Homo sapiens: one gene and its partner. The protein of the gene in region 1 purifies or fractionates together with the protein of each later gene. This does not show direct contact. Each region holds a gene or a part of one and is shown in the gene's direction. Other genes may lie near its edges.

Region 1 (5,145 bases):
GCTAAGTCCCACACTATGCCATCTCAAGCTAGACAATGAGGAAAGTCCATAACTGGTTCAGTTTAAGGCTGAAGGCCTGAGAACCCAAGGGGCTATTGGTGCACGTCCCGGAATCCCAAGGCAGGAGAACCTGGAGTTTCTGATGTCCAAGGGCAGGAAAAGAAGGGTGTCCCAGCTCCAGGAGGGAAGGAGGGGGAGAGACAGAGAGAGTTAGGGAGTCAGAGAAAGAGATTTATAATCCCTGAGAAGGAATTGTGATTACTCTTAGATAAAAAAGAACTGACACAAGATATCAAAGATATTTGTATATAGTGAATAGCCATGGATGATATAGTGTCTCCCTCAGGAGCAAAGTTATGTTTACTGCCCAATATAAAAGATTGGGGCTCCCTAAGCTTAAGTTTCCTCTCCCGGAATGCAACCCACTCCATGTGCAGTTGTTACCTGGCCCTCCCTGCATTGCAATGTGGTTATTTGGGTTTGGGTGGGGCTTGGGTAACCAATGCAAGAAAATGCTAATATTCTGGCTACTGCTATTGCTATAACTAATAAAGTCCTTTGTATGGGGGTAGAGGTGGGGAGAGAACTAATAATTTACAGCATAGTGGAAATCTTTGGAAACTTTCTCCCTCTTTCCCTCTTTTTTTATTTGCATTTCCCTGAGGCCTGTTTAAAGACTACTGTGAAAATCCAACCCAGGAAAACCTAAAGTGTCTGAGATTTTTCCTAGAAAATGGAATTCTGGGTTTTTCTGATTTTGTGTGTGCCTGTCTCTAGTTTCTGAAATACTCATTTGAGTAGGGCTTAGATTATGGGTTGTGGTGGTTGAAACAAGTTATTGTGGAGCTGGTTATTAGGTATGTGTGTGGCAAAGGGTAAATTGGGGCTGCCTCCTTGTCTTCACCTTCCTGCTTCCAGGTAAGTTCTTGCTTGCTTGCAGGACAGATTGTGATGAAAGCTTGTTATCCCAGGGTTGAACTCAGGCTATAATCCTGTAATAGAATTAGTAGACTTCGCAGAGAAATTAACCACTAGGCATCTGTCCCACAACCAAGTTCCTTTTGTATGTATGACACATTTATCAGAGCATTTGTAGATAAGGTCTAACTGAGTTCAGTTGGCATTTAATTCATTTCTAAGCCTGGATGATCTTGTAGTAATTGCAGCCAGATGTTGGCTTTATATTTTTATTCCTCGGTCTCAGAGCTAGGCCTTTCTTGGGCAGAGTGAGCTTTGGGAGTGATAGATGAGATTCTTCTCACTAAATGGTTCCATACCTGTGGGAGGGAGTTGAGGGTGGGTAGCTGTTTTTCTATGGTGACAGTTTGGTGCAGTAACCATAGATCATATGAAAGCAAGCAACTAGGTGTTACATTTTCAGCCTTACCTATAAGATTAGTGAGGTTCTGGGTAAAGGTTGACATTAAAGAGGGAGGACAGGAATAGATTTCATTTAAGCAATTAACTGGCCTTTAGAATTGGGGACAGGATATGAGTTGATTAGCTTCTTATTCAGTATTAGAGTATAGAAATGAAACTGTAAGAGGAATAAATTGTCAATCCTTCATGTTTGTATTTTCTTTTAGTGTCTACCATCAGAGGGAGATCTCTGCCCCCTGGGGCTGAGAGACCCCAACCTTTCCCCAAGCTGAAGCTGCAGGGTATTGAGGTACCAGCCAGATGTCTTCCCACAAAGGATCTGTGGTGGCACAGGGGAATGGGGCTCCTGCCAGTAACAGGGAAGCTGACACGGTGGAACTGGCTGAACTGGGACCCCTGCTAGAAGAGAAGGGCAAACGGGTAATCGCCAACCCACCCAAAGTAAGTCATCTTCCCAGGAGTCATCCCCTTGTTCAGTTTCTCTCCTTAGAACTCTGTCATTTTCTCTTTTTTAAGAGCTCACCGTCCAAAAGGAGGAACATTGCATCCTGGAAATGTCTCTATCCAAGTCCCTATGATACTGTTATAAACATCTTGTTGTCTGCTTTCCCCATTGTAAGCTTTTGGGAATGCACTCATCTTTGTAACACCAGTGCTTAGCACAAGGCCTGCAGTCCAATAAATAATCAGTAAATATCTGAATGAATGAAGGAAGCAGTCAATTAGGATTAGGTTTGACTTCATATAACACACAAAAATCCTTACAGTTTTGACAGGACAGAAGTCTCTCAAGCAAAAGAATTTCAGAAGTAACCAATCCAGGGCTGATATGGAGGATCCACCACTGTCAGGCACCTGTGTTGCTCTCCCATCACTCTTAATATGTGCCCATCATACCCACATTCTACCCCCCATGAAAGGGAAACGAGAAGAAAGGCCCTCTCTTTCCCTTTTATTTTTATTGAGATAAGATCTCGCCATGTTGCCTAGGCTGATCTTAAACTCCTAGGCTCAAGTGATCCTCCTGCCTCAGCCTCCCAAAGTGTTGGAATTACAGGTATGAGCCACTGTGCCCGGCCAACTCTTTGCCTTTTAAAGGGACTATCAGGGCCGGGCACGGTGGCTCACACCTGTAATCCCAACACTTTGAGAGGCCGAGGCAGGTGGATCACCTGAGATCAGGAGTTCGAGACCAGCCTGGCCAACATAGTGAAGCCCCCTCTCTACTAAAAACACAAAAATTAGCTGGGTGTGGTGGCAGTCGCCTGTAATCCCAGCTACTCGGGAGGCTGAGGCAGGAGAATCGCTTGAATCTGGGAGGCAGAGGTTGCAGTGAGCCGAGATCGTGCCATTGCACTCCAGCCTGGGCAACGAGTGAAACCCCCTCTCAGAAAAAACAAAAATAAATAAAGGGACTATCAGGAAGTACCTCATAAGACTTCGGCCAGAACTTACTTACATAACTATATTCAGCTGCAGTGGAGGTTAGAAAGTGCAGCCTGAGTAAAATTGCAGTAACATTGCCACCCTGAACAAAACCGTGGGCTTTGTTACTTAGGAAGAGAGAGAATGGATGTTAGGGTAGACTGGCTGGAAGCTGTAGCACAAAATCTAAGATGGACCATGTGTTTACTAGTGACCATCAGCAACAGGAGAGAAATAGCCCAGAAAAGGAGTTGAACTGCCAGGCTTTCTATAGCCATGATTCGGAGCCTTGGGATAGAGAGAGAGAAAGTTCTCTCCCTTTCACAGGCAAGTGCTCTCCTGGGTGTGTTTTTTTTTTTTTTTTTTGGAGACAGAGTCTCGCTGTCGCCCTGGCTGGAGTGCAGTGGCACGTTCTCGGCTCACTGCAGGCTCCGCCCTCCAGGGTTCATGCCATTCTCCTGCCTCAGCCTCCCGAGTAGCTGGGACTACAGGTGCCCGCCACCTCGCCCGGCTAATTTTTTGTATTTTTAGTAGAGACAGGGTTTCACCGTGTTAGCCAGGATGGTCTCGATCTCCTGACCTCGTGATCCGCCCGCCTCGGCCTCCCAAAGTGCTGGGATTACAGGCGTGAGCCACCGCGCCCGGCCCTCTGGGTGCGCTTTTTTAGGCCCTGGAGTCAGTACCGCTGTTTTCCATGGAACCAGTTCTGAGGCCCTGGTACTCCTGGGAGCTGCTGTAGATACAAAGTTTCAATCATGACAGCATCCCTAGAGTCAGTGAACAGGGAACTCTGAACAGAATTATTGTTATGGAACTCTCTGAGACTCTGTGTCTTTTTCGTTGTTTTGAAAACGTAGGCTGGGCATGGTGGCTCAGCCTGTAATCCCAGCACTTTGGGAGGCCGAGGCAGGAGGATCACGTGAGGTCAGGAGATTGAGAACAGCCTGGCCAACATGGTGAAACCCCATCTCTACTAAAAATACAAAAATTAGTCAGGCATGGTGGTGGGCGCCTGTAATCCCAGCTACTTGGAGGCCGAGGCATGAGAATTGCTTGAACCCGGGAGGCGGAGGTTGCAGTGAACAGAGATCGCACCACTGTACTCCAGCCTGGGTGACAGAGGGATATTCCATTTCAAAAAAAAAAAAAGAAAGAAAGAAAATGTAATGGCTTAGAAAAGAGAACTCTTTGGGAAACTGAGGAAAGTTAAGAACCACTATCCTAAAGAAAAGGATGTCATTCAGTACCTAGAGCTGGTGTATTCCCCCAATGCTAGTCTCTGTGACAGTCCTTCTTTTACGCACTGCATAGAATGTTCACTCCAGCATTTACGAAGTATTAATAAATTTCTAACTAGTGTTGTAAACTCAGTGTGTATGCTTTTGGAGAAGAGACCACAAGACCCTCTGTAGGAAAGAGGCTGGGCAGAAGGCATTAGGTTTGGGTTTTTCTGGGTCTCTCTGCTCTGGAATAGTACAATTTATGAGATGACTCCCTGGATTGTTGTGGGTTTTTTCCCCCATAGGCTGAAGAAGAGCAAACATGCCCAGTGCCCCAGGAAGAAGAGGAGGAGGTGCGGGTACTGACACTTCCCCTGCAAGCCCACCACGCCATGGAGAAGATGGAAGAGTTTGTGTACAAGGTATGGCCTATGAGCTTCTGTCCTGGAAGGGGAAGGGCAGCAGGCCTGTCTGGGATGTCCCCAGCCAGCAAGCTTGCACTGGGTCGAAGAGCTTTTATTCCTGGGAAGGAGTGGATTTGTTTTTTGGTTAAGATGAGGTAAATCAATGTGAAGACTGGCTAAATTTTTACTGCCTACTCTGTGAGGCATTGTTCAAAATATATTCTTAAAACGGATTCTTTTCTATGCAAGGGGCGCCTTTGGAAGTCATCAAAATATTTCAATATGACAGTAATATGAATGCCTTTGTTAACACATTAAATATACATGAATGATGAGCACTAATGTATTTTATTAAAATTTGTAATTTCTAAGTAATGATGAATAGAAACAGTATTTTGAGATACCTGCAGAACTAATGTGTGAGAGTATCTGATTTCTATTGGTGACAAAGCCACAAGTTCTACTAATACTGTGGTTTGTTGCTTATGCTTATAATTGAGGAAAATGCTCAATTTACTTAGAGGTAAATGGAAATACAATTTTTTCCATCTATTCCCTGGATCCTGTCCATAGTGCATGGATCCTAGATTAAGAACCCCTACTCTAAAAAGATGTGGTAAGAACTTAGAATCTAATTGGGGGAGGGATGAGACATGAGATAGAATCTCCTGGAGAGGGGCAAAGGAGGGATCTGTACGTTTTTTAAAACAACGTTT
Region 2 (4,322 bases), on another chromosome or scaffold:
TCCTTGCAAGGTTAAGCAAGGTGGGTGGAAACTAAGACACCTGAACCCTCCAGGGCCTCCCGCATCAAGGTCAGCATGAGGACAGACCACAGAGCTGTCACTTTTGCTCCGAAGCTACTTCTCCACTGTCCCGTTCAGTCTGAATGCTGCCACAACCAGCCAGGCAGGTCCACAGAGAGGGAGAGCAGAGAAAGAAGTCCTTTCTCTTTATTGAGTTCGAGGACTACAACCAATTTACACTGCCATCTGATGCCGTGATCCTGAGCCAAGGAGGTGAGGAGCAGAGCAGGCAATTTCACCACCAAATGCCAAGAAAAGGGCTGACATTTTCTTTCATGGGCACCAACCTGCATTTGTATGTGTCCCGAATCCACAGTCGTACTGATTCTAATGGGGACACAGATCATGGTAGAGAATCTCTCCCTCCTCAGTAAATGTACAACTGCACCTGTCATCATGGAGGTCATACATGCATACAAAGAGGTGTACAGGTACCATCTTGTATACACATATATACCCACATGTACAGACATACATTTATGCACATTCACGCTGTTTGTTTCATATATACAGGCATAAAATAGAGTAAATACAGGTAGTTTTAAAAGTACCCTTTTGTGTGAATTGACTACCGTTGTTTGCAAACCCGAAAATAAAAGACGTTCATTATGTATGAAAAGTAACTGATTTGTATTCTGTGAGCATGTAAAAGCGGAAAGTTAGTGCTTGTTCTAAGATTACCTTCTTGTTGATAAACCATAAATGAATCATCAAAGCTCACACCAAATTTTTCTATCAAATAAAACTAGTGACAGCTTGTGGCTTTTTATTAGAGCTCGCCACGAACTAGGGTAAGGTGAGTGTCTTAGCATATTTTAATGCAGTTGCTTACTAAAGGTTTTAACCGCACATGCACACACACACGCTTTCTTATGCAATCTATGTTTGCACTTGTGCTTTCAGTTAGCCTTCTGTAGGAAGTAGAAGTCATATGTTGTCTTTGTTGTAGTGAAATTATACAGATAGAGTTCCATATATTGTATTTGTTTCAATGGTAAATCCTTTTGGAACATATAGAATGCAGAGATTTTTTTTTCCATTAAAATAAATGGGTATTGGTGGTTAAAACTGCTGGACAGTAACTGTTCTCTGATTTCTATCTTGTGTCCAATGTCACTGATGTTGGGTCTTGTCTTAGTGCAAGTTCACATTTTTGACAGACCATTTGGGGTCCGTCGTACATCTCTGGTTGGTGAGTGAGTCTATGAAGACAGAAGTACCAGTTCTCAGCATGGGCCATGGACTCATCTTGTCCACCTCATGATATGATCTGAGGGTGTCATAATCAGCTATAAAGGTAATTGCATACTCAAAGATGAGACGGACCATTCTCAGTTGATGACCACATTAAGCATAGTCATGGCCATCTGTCAACAGTCCCAAGACCTGGGGATTTTTCTCTGGAACAAATCCTGTTGCTGGATCAGGAGATGCCACACCTTGAACTTGATAGGGTCATTCTCCACGAGCACATGCCCCCGACTCAGGGACAGGGGAATCTAAGCCTGTGCATTCACACTCCACAAGATTTCCTCTACTGGCTTTACAGGGCACTGTCACGCGTCTCCCGGGCGCACCTTGCTCCCCTCTTCCTGCAAGGCAGGGGGAGAACGTTCATCCTTGAACAAACAAAGAGCATCCTCAGCCAGTCAGGCGGCTGGTAGCCGGACACATATGCTAACTGGCAATCAGGAAGTCACCCTCCAATGTAAACTTCAGCCACATGCAGGGAGAAACACAGCAGCTGAGTGGCCATTCACTCAAGGAAACAAATACAGCATGACTCCTTTTCTCTCAAGCTGGTAGGCTCTCCTGCACTTTGTGAACCGAACCAGAAGATTAACTTCGCTGAAAATTCAGAAAAATAGGAGTAAAGTGCACACTTCATTAATAAATAGAATATGCCTCAACTTTCCCTTATTTAAACATATTCTCTGTCCCCACAGTTCTAATCAGGACAGAGATACTTCTGTCATGTTGTTCCTCCTAATAGTTTCCAGAAAAAAAGGAAAATAAACCAATTCTTATAGGCCAAAGTGGTAGCATTTCCTGAATCATAAGATGTTTTGTTCATTTGCTGGAATATATTACATTGTTTACTGAAAACCATAGTAGAATCAAAATGTTATTTCATTATTACCTATGCATTTTATCTGAGTCCAACTTATTAAAAAACGAAGTCAAGTAAGGACCAGAAATTGCTTTTCCCAATTACTGAGCACAGGTCTGAGGGTTTTATTTCCACTGAGCAAATAGTCACACCTTCACTTCTTTTTATTAATACTCAACCAACTTAGTTGATTAAAAATCACATTTTCTCCCTCATTTTACATACGATAAATTAATTATTTTGGATAATTTGTTTTAATAAGAATATGCACACATTTTCTAATTTCAATAAAAGTCACCTTCAATACCGCCAGTTCTCTCCAAATGAGCATCATTCCAGGCAGATATACCTGCTGTGCCTCTTGGCCGACACCAGCAAATCTAAGCATTATAACGAAATAAATCCAGCCAGATTTCATGGTAGGTATCAAATAAGACTTTGGCTCTTAAAGAACATCGTTAGAAATTTTGATAGCTCATTCCAGAGTTTCAGAATGTCATTTAAAACAGTCTGATAAATGGAACAACCATCTACCATCACACTCATAGAGTAGCTCAAATTGCATTTTACCCAAATAAATACACTGGGTCTTAATCTTAAGATGTGACAACTAAAAAATTTTTAACAAGTCTGTGTTTGATCCTGGATTTAGTGCAGTTGCACCCAGGCACGAGCTCTCCAGATGATTCTGAGGAAAGGAGTCTACAATTTTCCTAGGGGGTGTATGAACATGGTACCAAAAAGGTGATTAATAATTATAATAATGGTTTATATTTATCAACTGCTTATTATGTGCCCACACTGTACAAAATCCTTACAGATAGTAACTCATTAATCCCTCCAGTAACATATGAGACAAGCACTACTATCTTCTCCAACTCACAGATAAAGAAGGCTGAGGCTCAGAAAAATTGAATGGCTTGCCCAAGGTAAGTGGCCTCCAGAACCAAACCTCAGGCTATCTGGCTCCAGGGTTCATGTTCTTCCGACAACATCACAATGCCACTCTCAACCCAGGAGCAAAACCAGACAAAGTGCCTACTGCAGACCGGAAGACCCTCGTTTGAAGCCTCCATTAGCGTGACTATGCAGCTAGACCAACTTACTGTTAAGCAACAGTACCTTTTACTATGAGGTACCCTTTACTATTAAGTACCTTTTACTAACAGTATCTTCTGTTACCTATTATTAAGTTCATGCTATACTTCTTCAATCTGAAAGCTTTCTGTTAAAAAAAAAAATGTTAACATCGTTCTAAATTAATATTGAGACCTTAGAAATTTTTCCTGTGCAAGATAACGTAATTATTTGCCCCTTCCCTTCCATGGCTTGTTAGCAGGTAGATGAGGGGCTTCTCCTAGATTAATTTAACATCTCAGTTAATCAAAAGTAGCCGGGCATGGTGACTCATGCCTGTAATCCCAGCCCTTTGGGAGGCAGAGGCGGGTGGATCACTTAAGGTCAGGAGTTCAAGACCAGCCTGGCCAGCATGGTGAAACCCTATCTCTACTAAAAAATACAAAAATTAGCTGGGTGTGGTGGTGCACACCTGAAACCCCAGCTACTCAGGAGGCTGAGGCAGGAGAATCGCTTGAACCCAGGAGGCAGAGTTTGCAGTGAGCCATTGCACTCCAGCCTGGGCAACAGAGCAAGACTCCGTCAAAAAAAAAAAAAAAAAAAAAGAAAGAAAAGGAAATTTATGAACTCCAGAGTACCCATTCACTACCAAACCAACTGAGGGGAGAGAAAACTGAGGGAGAAAGTGGGGTGGGGTCTCAAAGGGTTTGCACTGTGCTTTGCTATAAATCATTCAAAGGGGCAAATTCTAAAGGATCTCTAAGTAGTTGCTGATTTTGTAAAGGTAGCCCATAAATCTGTTTACGTGTAGCTGCCTTAAACATGAGTCAACAGGGTAAGTCACACCAACAGGAAACCCAAGCACTAAAAAAGCCACCTACCTTTTCTGTTTACCAAATACTAAGAATAATAATCTAATAATCTGGCTACATCTTTCATAAAGACCTCCATCTTCTCTCCTTAACTGACTGTTGAGATTTGATAATTTTCACAGTCTAATGATAAAATGCTTTCAAAATGGTTCATCTAACACAATTAACAATTCTTTTACTATATGCAATGTGTTACCCTTACT

What was found. The genes of interacting proteins can lie anywhere in the genome.
Region 2: the proteins of ADIPOR1 (region 1) and CDH13 purify together in Homo sapiens (affinity purification with western blotting, with the first as the bait; one study listed by BioGRID). This does not show direct contact.

What each region holds. Positions count from the first base shown.
Region 1 is NC_000001.11:202,947,606-202,952,750, reverse strand, and holds part of ADIPOR1 (adiponectin receptor protein 1), read left to right. Parts: intron 1-1,586; 5' UTR 1,587-1,680; coding exon 1,681-1,821; intron 1,822-4,330; coding exon 4,331-4,447; intron 4,448-5,145. UniProt on the Homo sapiens protein: Receptor for ADIPOQ, an essential hormone secreted by adipocytes that regulates glucose and lipid metabolism. Required for normal glucose and fat homeostasis and for maintaining a normal body weight.
Region 2 is NC_000016.10:83,795,469-83,799,790, forward strand, and holds part of CDH13 (cadherin-13 isoform 1 preproprotein), read left to right. Parts: 3' UTR 1-4,322.